2 linked regions of the Homo sapiens genome follow. The protein of the gene in region 1 purifies or fractionates together with the protein of each later gene. This does not show direct contact. Each region holds a gene or a part of one and is shown on either strand. Other genes may lie near its edges.

Region 1 (3,824 bases):
TTTGACCAGTTGCTGTTTTTCACCTTAGTCCCTTCTGCGTTCCTCCTAGCACTTTATGAAAATGCATGCTGAGAAGAAGCACAAATGTAGTAAGTGCAGCAATTCGTACGGTACAGAATGGGACCTGAAAAGACATGCAGAGGACTGTGGCAAGACCTTCCGGTGCACATGCGGCTGTCCCTACGCCAGTAGAACAGCACTGCAGTCTCACATCTACCGAACTGGGCACGAGATACCTGCAGAACACAGGTGAAGGGAAAGAAATGATGGCACAGAAGTCAGTAGCTATGGGAAGCATTTCAGATGAAACATCCTGGAGAGCCAGTGGTGTGGGGAGGAAAAAGGAATCTTAGAAAATGTGTGACGTGGAAGAAGGAAGCTTTTGAAAATGGAAGCAGGTCTTGCAAATGACACATGTCTGGGCCTGAAATCTTGACCCAATTGTTCCCCCTATTTTTTTCTGCCAGCCCTCTTTGAGAGTCCCTTGTTATTTCCATTTGAAAATCTCAGCTTCCAGAATTTTCTATCAGAGGGAACCAAACTGCCAACAAATAAGTTTTATCATGAAACTGTACTTCATTTAAAGGTCAAATTTTCATTTAGTGTGATAGCTTCCTGCCTTAGAAATGATAAAACTTGCATTATGTAAGTCTTTTAGCTTCTTTTGGCTTAAAGATCTGAGTTGAGTTCTAGTACTTAGAGCTTAACAAAAGGTATGTTTCCTCCTTCTCTGTTTGCATGTTTCTCAAAGTTCACCTGCTATAATAGGACCAACTCCCAGAGTTGCGAAAGAATGGATTTATCTTGTCTGGGTTGAACATGACCTCTGCTATAGATGGGGGAAATGGCATTTGTAAGTGAGGATAGAGTGTCATGGTCGAAGAAAGTTGTATTTTAAGGTTTTCTTTTTGCTCTGTCATTGTTTTCAGGGACCCACCTAGTAAGAAAAGGAAAATGGAAAACTGTGCACAAAACCAGAAGTTATCCAACAAGACCATTGAATCATTGAACAACCAACCAATCCCTAGACCAGACACTCAAGAACTAGAAGCTTCAGAAATAAAGCTAGAACCATCTTTTGAAGACTCTTGTGGCTCTAACACTGACAAGCAGACTCTTACAACACCACCGAGATATCCTCAGAAGTTGCTTTTACCAAAGCCCAAAGTGGCTTTGGTTAAACTACCCGTGATGCAGTTTTCTGTCATGCCTGTCTTTGTGCCTACAGCCGACTCCTCAGCCCAGCCTGTGGTGTTAGGTGTTGATCAGGGCTCTGCCACAGGGGCTGTGCACTTAATGCCCTTGTCAGTAGGAACCCTGATCCTCGGCCTAGATTCAGAGGCTTGCTCTCTTAAGGAGAGCCTACCTCTTTTCAAAATTGCTAATCCTATTGCTGGTGAGCCAATAAGTACTGGTGTTCAAGTGAACTTTGGTAAAAGTCCATCTAATCCTTTACAAGAACTAGGGAACACGTGTCAAAAGAATAGCATTTCTTCAATCAACGTGCAGACAGATCTGTCTTATGCCTCACAAAACTTTATACCTTCTGCACAGTGGGCCACTGCTGATTCCTCTGTGTCGTCTTGTTCTCAAACTGATTTGTCGTTTGATTCTCAAGTGTCTCTTCCCATTAGTGTTCACACTCAGACATTTTTGCCCAGCTCTAAGGTAACTTCATCTATAGCTGCTCAGACTGATGCATTTATGGACACCTGTTTCCAGTCAGGTGGGGTCTCCAGAGAAACTCAAACCAGTGGGATAGAAAGTCCAACGGATGACCATGTACAGATGGACCAAGCTGGAATGTGCGGAGACATTTTTGAGAGTGTTCATTCATCATATAATGTTGCTACAGGTAACATTATAAGCAACAGTTTAGTAGCAGAGACAGTAACTCATAGTTTGTTACCTCAGAATGAGCCTAAGACTTTAAATCAAGATATTGAGAAATCTGCACCAATTATAAATTTCAGTGCACAGAATAGTATGCTTCCTTCACAGAACATGACAGATAATCAGACCCAAACCATAGATTTATTAAGTGATTTGGAAAACATCTTGTCAAGTAATCTGCCTGCTCAGACATTGGATCATCGTAGTCTTTTGTCTGACACAAATCCTGGACCTGACACCCAGCTCCCATCTGGCCCAGCCCAGAACCCCGGAATCGATTTTGATATCGAAGAGTTCTTTTCGGCCTCAAATATCCAGACTCAAACTGAAGAGAGTGAACTTAGCACCATGACCACCGAGCCAGTCTTGGAGTCACTGGACATAGAGACTCAAACGGACTTCTTACTCGCAGATACCTCTGCTCAGTCCTATGGGTGTAGGGGAAATTCTAACTTCTTAGGCCTTGAGATGTTTGACACACAGACACAGACAGACTTAAACTTTTTCTTAGACAGTAGCCCTCATCTGCCTCTGGGAAGTATTCTGAAACACTCCAGCTTTTCCGTGAGTACTGATTCATCTGACACAGAGACCCAAACTGAAGGAGTCTCCACTGCTAAAAATATACCTGCTCTAGAAAGCAAAGTTCAGTTGAACAGTACAGAAACACAGACCATGAGTTCTGGGTTTGAAACCCTGGGGAGCTTGTTCTTCACCAGCAACGAAACTCAGACAGCAATGGATGACTTTCTTCTGGCTGATCTGGCCTGGAACACGATGGAGTCTCAGTTCAGCTCTGTAGAAACCCAGACTTCTGCGGAACCACACACAGTCTCCAACTTCTAAAACTAACGGTGGAGTCCATGTGTGAAATGGCATCTACCATTTCCTCTGGATTAAAACTACGGACTGGGGACAACAGTATTAATTCGATTGAATGTGGCTGATGATGCAGTTGCTTAGCTTCTTTGTGTTTCTTTGCCTTTTGTACTTGTAAACAGAAATTTGCGTATAAATGTGAGTGTATTATAAAGTTTGAGATGTTGATCTAAATTGTTTTTGTGTTGCCTACATTTGCCTTTTCACAGCTAGTCTTTTCATGTTAAAAAAAAAAATGTATTTCATATCTATAAAACCTATATAGCCATTTAGCTGAAGCCCAGCTTACCAGGTTCAAGGGTACAAACTTCTCAAATCTTCAAAACATTTTAGTCAAAGTGTAATATACTTAAACTGCACCTAAAATATCTTTGGCACTGCTTGTTAGAAATTCCTGATTCCTGTTACTAATCACTAAAGAAACCGGATGCTGCCACCGTAGGATTTAAGCAGTAGTGCTTCCATGCTCTTAAGACTCCTGCTGCCTGGACCTTCGTCAGCTTTGACACCTCTTTTCTGATTTAAAGACACCAAGGAAAACTACAACTGTCTTTAGCTTTGAAGCAGTTTTCATGTAATCATTGCCACCTCTTCGCTACATGAACTACTATTGATACCAGCATACAAGTGTACAGCACTTTACACACAAGAGGTTTATTGATGTAAAATTATCGGCTAGGGAAGCAGCAGCGGGCCAGGTGTGGTGGCTTACCCCTGTAATCCCAGCACTTTGGGAGGCCAAAGCAGGACGATCACTTGAGCCCAGGAGTTCAACACCAGCTTGGGCAACGTAAGAAGACCGTGTCTCTGGAATTTTTTTTTTTTTTTAATTAGCCAGGCACAGTGGCATGCGCCTGTGATCCCAGCTACTTGGAAGGCTGAGGTGAGAGGATCACTCGAGGAGATTGGGGCTGCCATGAGCCATGGTCTTGGCACTGTACTCCAACCTGGGTAACAGGGCAAGACCCTATCTCAAAAAAAAAAAAAGTCGCCAGCAACAAGCACGTAGTGTAGTGTTCCTGCTAAATGAGCGTAGGTTATCCAAACCTTGG
Region 2 (3,824 bases), on another chromosome or scaffold:
GGATATCCAGTTTTCCCAACACCATTTATTGAAGAGAGTATCCTTTCCCTAATGTGTGTTCATGGTGCTTTCTCAATCAGTTGGCTGTAAATTTGTGGATTTGTTTCTGGGTTCTCGATTCTGTTCCTTTGGTCTATATGTCTGTTTTTATACCAATCCCATGCTGCTTTGGTTACTATAGCTTTGTAGTATATTTTGAAGTCACGTAGCATGATGCCTCTAGCTTTGTTCTTTTTCCTCAGTACTATTTGGCTATTTGAGATCTTTTGTGTTTCCATACAAATTTTAGGATTGTTTTTTCTATTTCTGTGAAAAAAAATGTCACTGGTATTTATAAGGATTGCATTGATTCTGTAGATTGCTTTGGGTAGTATGGTTATTTTAACAATATTAATTCTTCCAATCCATGAGCATGGGATGTCTTTCCATTTGCTTGTGTCACCTTCAGTTTCTTTTATCAGTGTTTTGTAGTTTTCACTGTAGAGATCTTTCACTTCCTTAGTTAAATGCATTCCTAGGTATTTTTGTTAAATACTATAAGATTGCTTTCTTGATTTCTTTTTCAGCTAGTTCATTACTGATGTGTAGAATATGTTGGTATTTTGGTATGTTGGTATGGTATGTTGATTTTGGTATTTTGATTTTGTATCCTGCAACTTTACCAAATTTATCAGTTCTAAGAGGTTTTCTTGGTGGAGTCTTTAGGTTTTTCTGTATAGAAGATCATATGGTCTGCAAAGAGGGGCAATTTGACTTTTTCTTTTCCTATTTGGATGCCTTTTATTTCTTTATCTTTTGGGATTGCTTTGGCTAGGACTTCCAGGATACAGGCTGAAAGCCTTTCCCAATTCAGTATGATGTTAACTGTGGGTTTGTCATATATGGACTTTATTATGTTGAGGTATGTTCCTTACATGCCTAATTTGTTGAGGGTTTTTAGCATAAAGGGATGTTGAATTTTACCAAATGTTCTTCTACATCTACCAGGATAATCATATGATTTGTCCTTCATTATGTTGATGTGATGTGCAAATGTTCAACATTTGTTGACTTGCTCATGTTGAACCATCCTTGCATCCCTGGGATAAATCCCACTTGATCATGTGTTATCTTTTCGAAGTATTATTGGATTTGGTTTGCTAGCATTTTGTTGAAGGTATTTGTATCTATGTTCATCAGGGATATTGGCCTGTAGTTTTCTTTTTTGTTGTGTCTTTGGTCTAGTTTTGGTATCAGGGTAATGCTGACTTCATAGAAGTGGTTAGGAGTAATTCCCTCCTCTTCAATTTTTTTGGAATAGTTTGAGAAGAATTGGTGTTAATTCTTCTTTATAAGTTTGGTAGAGTTCAGCAGTAAAGCCATCTAGTCCTGGGCTATTCTTTGTTGAGGAGTTTTTTATTACTGATTCAATCTACTCACTCACTATTGGTCTGTTCAGGTTTTCTGTTTCTTCCTGGATCAATCTTAGTAGGTTGTATGTGTTCAGGAATTTATCCATCTCCTCTAGGCTTTCCAATTTGTTCACATGTAGTTGTTCATCATAGTCTCTAATGACCCCTTTTATTTCTGTGGTATCAATGGTAATGTCTCCTTTTTTATCCCTGATTTTATTTTACTTGGGTCTTCTCTTTTTTTAGTCTATTTAGTCTAAGTAGCGGTTCATCCATTTTGTTTATCTTTTTAAGAAACCAACTTTTTATTTTGTTAATTTTTAGCCTCTATTATGTTTAGTTCTGTTCTGATTTTTATTATTTCTTTCCTTCTACTAATTTTAGGTTTGGTTTATTCTTGCTTTTTTGTTTGTTTTTGAGATGGATTTTTGCTTTTGTTGCCCAAGCTGGAGTGCAATGACGTGATCTCAGCTCACTGCAACCTCTGCCCCCTGGGTTCAAGTGATTCTCCTGCCTCAGCCTCCTGAGTAGTTGGGATCACAGGCATGCACCACCACGCCCGGCTAATTTTGTATTTTTAGTAGAGACGGGGTTTCACCATGTTGGTCAGGCTGGTCTCAAACTCCTGACCTCAGGTGATCCACCCGCCTCAGCCTCCCAAAGTACTGGAATTTCAGGTGTGAGCCACTATGCCTGGCTTTTCTTGCTTTTCTAATTCCTTAAGATGAACCGTTAGGTTGTTTATTTGAAATTGTTCTACTTTTTTTGATGTAAGCATGTATTGCTTCAAACTTTGCTGTATCCCTTAGGTTTTGGTATGTTGTGTTTCCATTTTCATTTGTTTCCAGAAATTTTTTGATTTCCTTTTAAATTTCTTCATCAGCCCAGTGGTTGTCCAGGAGCGTGTTGTTTAATTTTCACGTATTTGTACAATTTCCAAAGTTCCTCTTGTTCCATTGTGGTCTGTATCCATTGTGGTAAGTATCCATTAAGATACCTGACAGTATTTCAATTTTTAAAAATTTGTTGAGCCTTGTTTTGTGACCTACCATAGGGTCTATCCTGGAGAACATTCCCTGTGCTGATAAGAATGTGTATTCTGTAGCTGAATAAATAATCTGCAAATATTCATTAGGTCCATTTGGACTATAATGCAGACTAAGTCCAGTATTCTTTGCTGAATAAATAATCTGCAAATATTCATTAGGTCCATTTGGACTATAATGCAGACTAAGTCCAGTATTTCTTTGCTGATTTTCTGTCTACGTGATCTGCCCAATACCAAAAGTGAGATGAAGTTCCCAGCTATTACTGTATTGGCAGTCTCTCGGTCTCTGTTTAGCTCTAATATTTGCTTTACATATCTCAGTGCTCTACCGTTGGGTGGTCATACATATGTGTATAAATATACATATACATATATATGTCTATATACATATATACACATACTTATATCCTCTGGCTGAATTGATCTCTTGATCATTAATTATAAAATGACCTTCTTTGTCTCTTTTTATGTTTTTGACTTAAAGTCTACTCTGTCTGATATAAGTATAGCTACTCCTGCACACTTTTGGTTTCCATTTGTGTGGAATATTTTTTCCATTCCTTCACATTCAGTCTATATGTATCTTCACAGATGCAGTGAGTTTATTGGAGGCAGCATATAGTTGGACCTTATTTTTTATCCATTCAGCTTGTCTGTATCTTTTAACTAGAGAATTTAAACCGTTGTTAAATTCAGGGTTGTTATTGATAGGTAACAACTTACTCCTGTCATTTTGTTATTTGTTTTGATTGTTTTGTACATTCTTTGTTCTTTTCTTTCTCTTTATTGCCTACCTTTCCAATTGTTGGGGGTTTTGTAATGATAACATTTGACTCCTTTCTCTTTGTCATTTGTGTATCTGCTCTACCAGTGAGTTTTATACTTTTGTGTGTTTTCATGATGGTAGACATCATCCCTTTGCTTCCAGATGTAACACTCTCTTAAGCATTTTCTGTAGAACTAGTCTAGTGGTGATGAATTCCCTCTGTTTTTGCTTGTCTGGGAAAGACTTTGTTTCTCCTTCATTTTTGAAGGATAGCTTTGCTGGGTATCGTATTCTTGTCTGAAAGGGTTTTTTTTTAGCACTTTGAGCATATCATCCTATTCTCTTCTGACCTGTAAGTTTTCTGCTCAGAAATCTGCTATTAGTCTGAGGAGAATTCCCTTATATGTGACTTTATACTTTTGTCTTGCTATTTTCAGAATTATATGTTTGTCTTTGACTTTTGACAGTTTGACTATAATATGCCTGCAGAAGACATTTTGGGGTTGAATCTATTTGAGAATCTTTGAGCTTCCTGTATCTGGGTGTCTAAATCTCTTGTAAGACATGGGACGTTTTCAGCTATTACTTCATTAAATAGATTTTCTATGCCTTTGCCCAT

What was found.
Region 2: the proteins of ATMIN (region 1) and OAS2 purify together in Homo sapiens (affinity purification with mass spectrometry; one large-scale study listed by BioGRID and IntAct). This does not show direct contact.

What each region holds. Positions count from the first base shown.
Region 1 is NC_000016.10:81,042,232-81,046,055, forward strand, and holds part of ATMIN (ATM interactor), read left to right. Parts: intron 1-49; coding exon 50-249; intron 250-929; coding exon 930-2,739; 3' UTR 2,740-3,824. UniProt on the Homo sapiens protein: Transcription factor. Plays a crucial role in cell survival and RAD51 foci formation in response to methylating DNA damage. Involved in regulating the activity of ATM in the absence of DNA damage. May play a role in stabilizing ATM.
Region 2 is NC_000012.12:112,981,435-112,985,258, forward strand, and holds part of OAS2 (2'-5'-oligoadenylate synthase 2), read left to right. Parts: intron 1-3,824.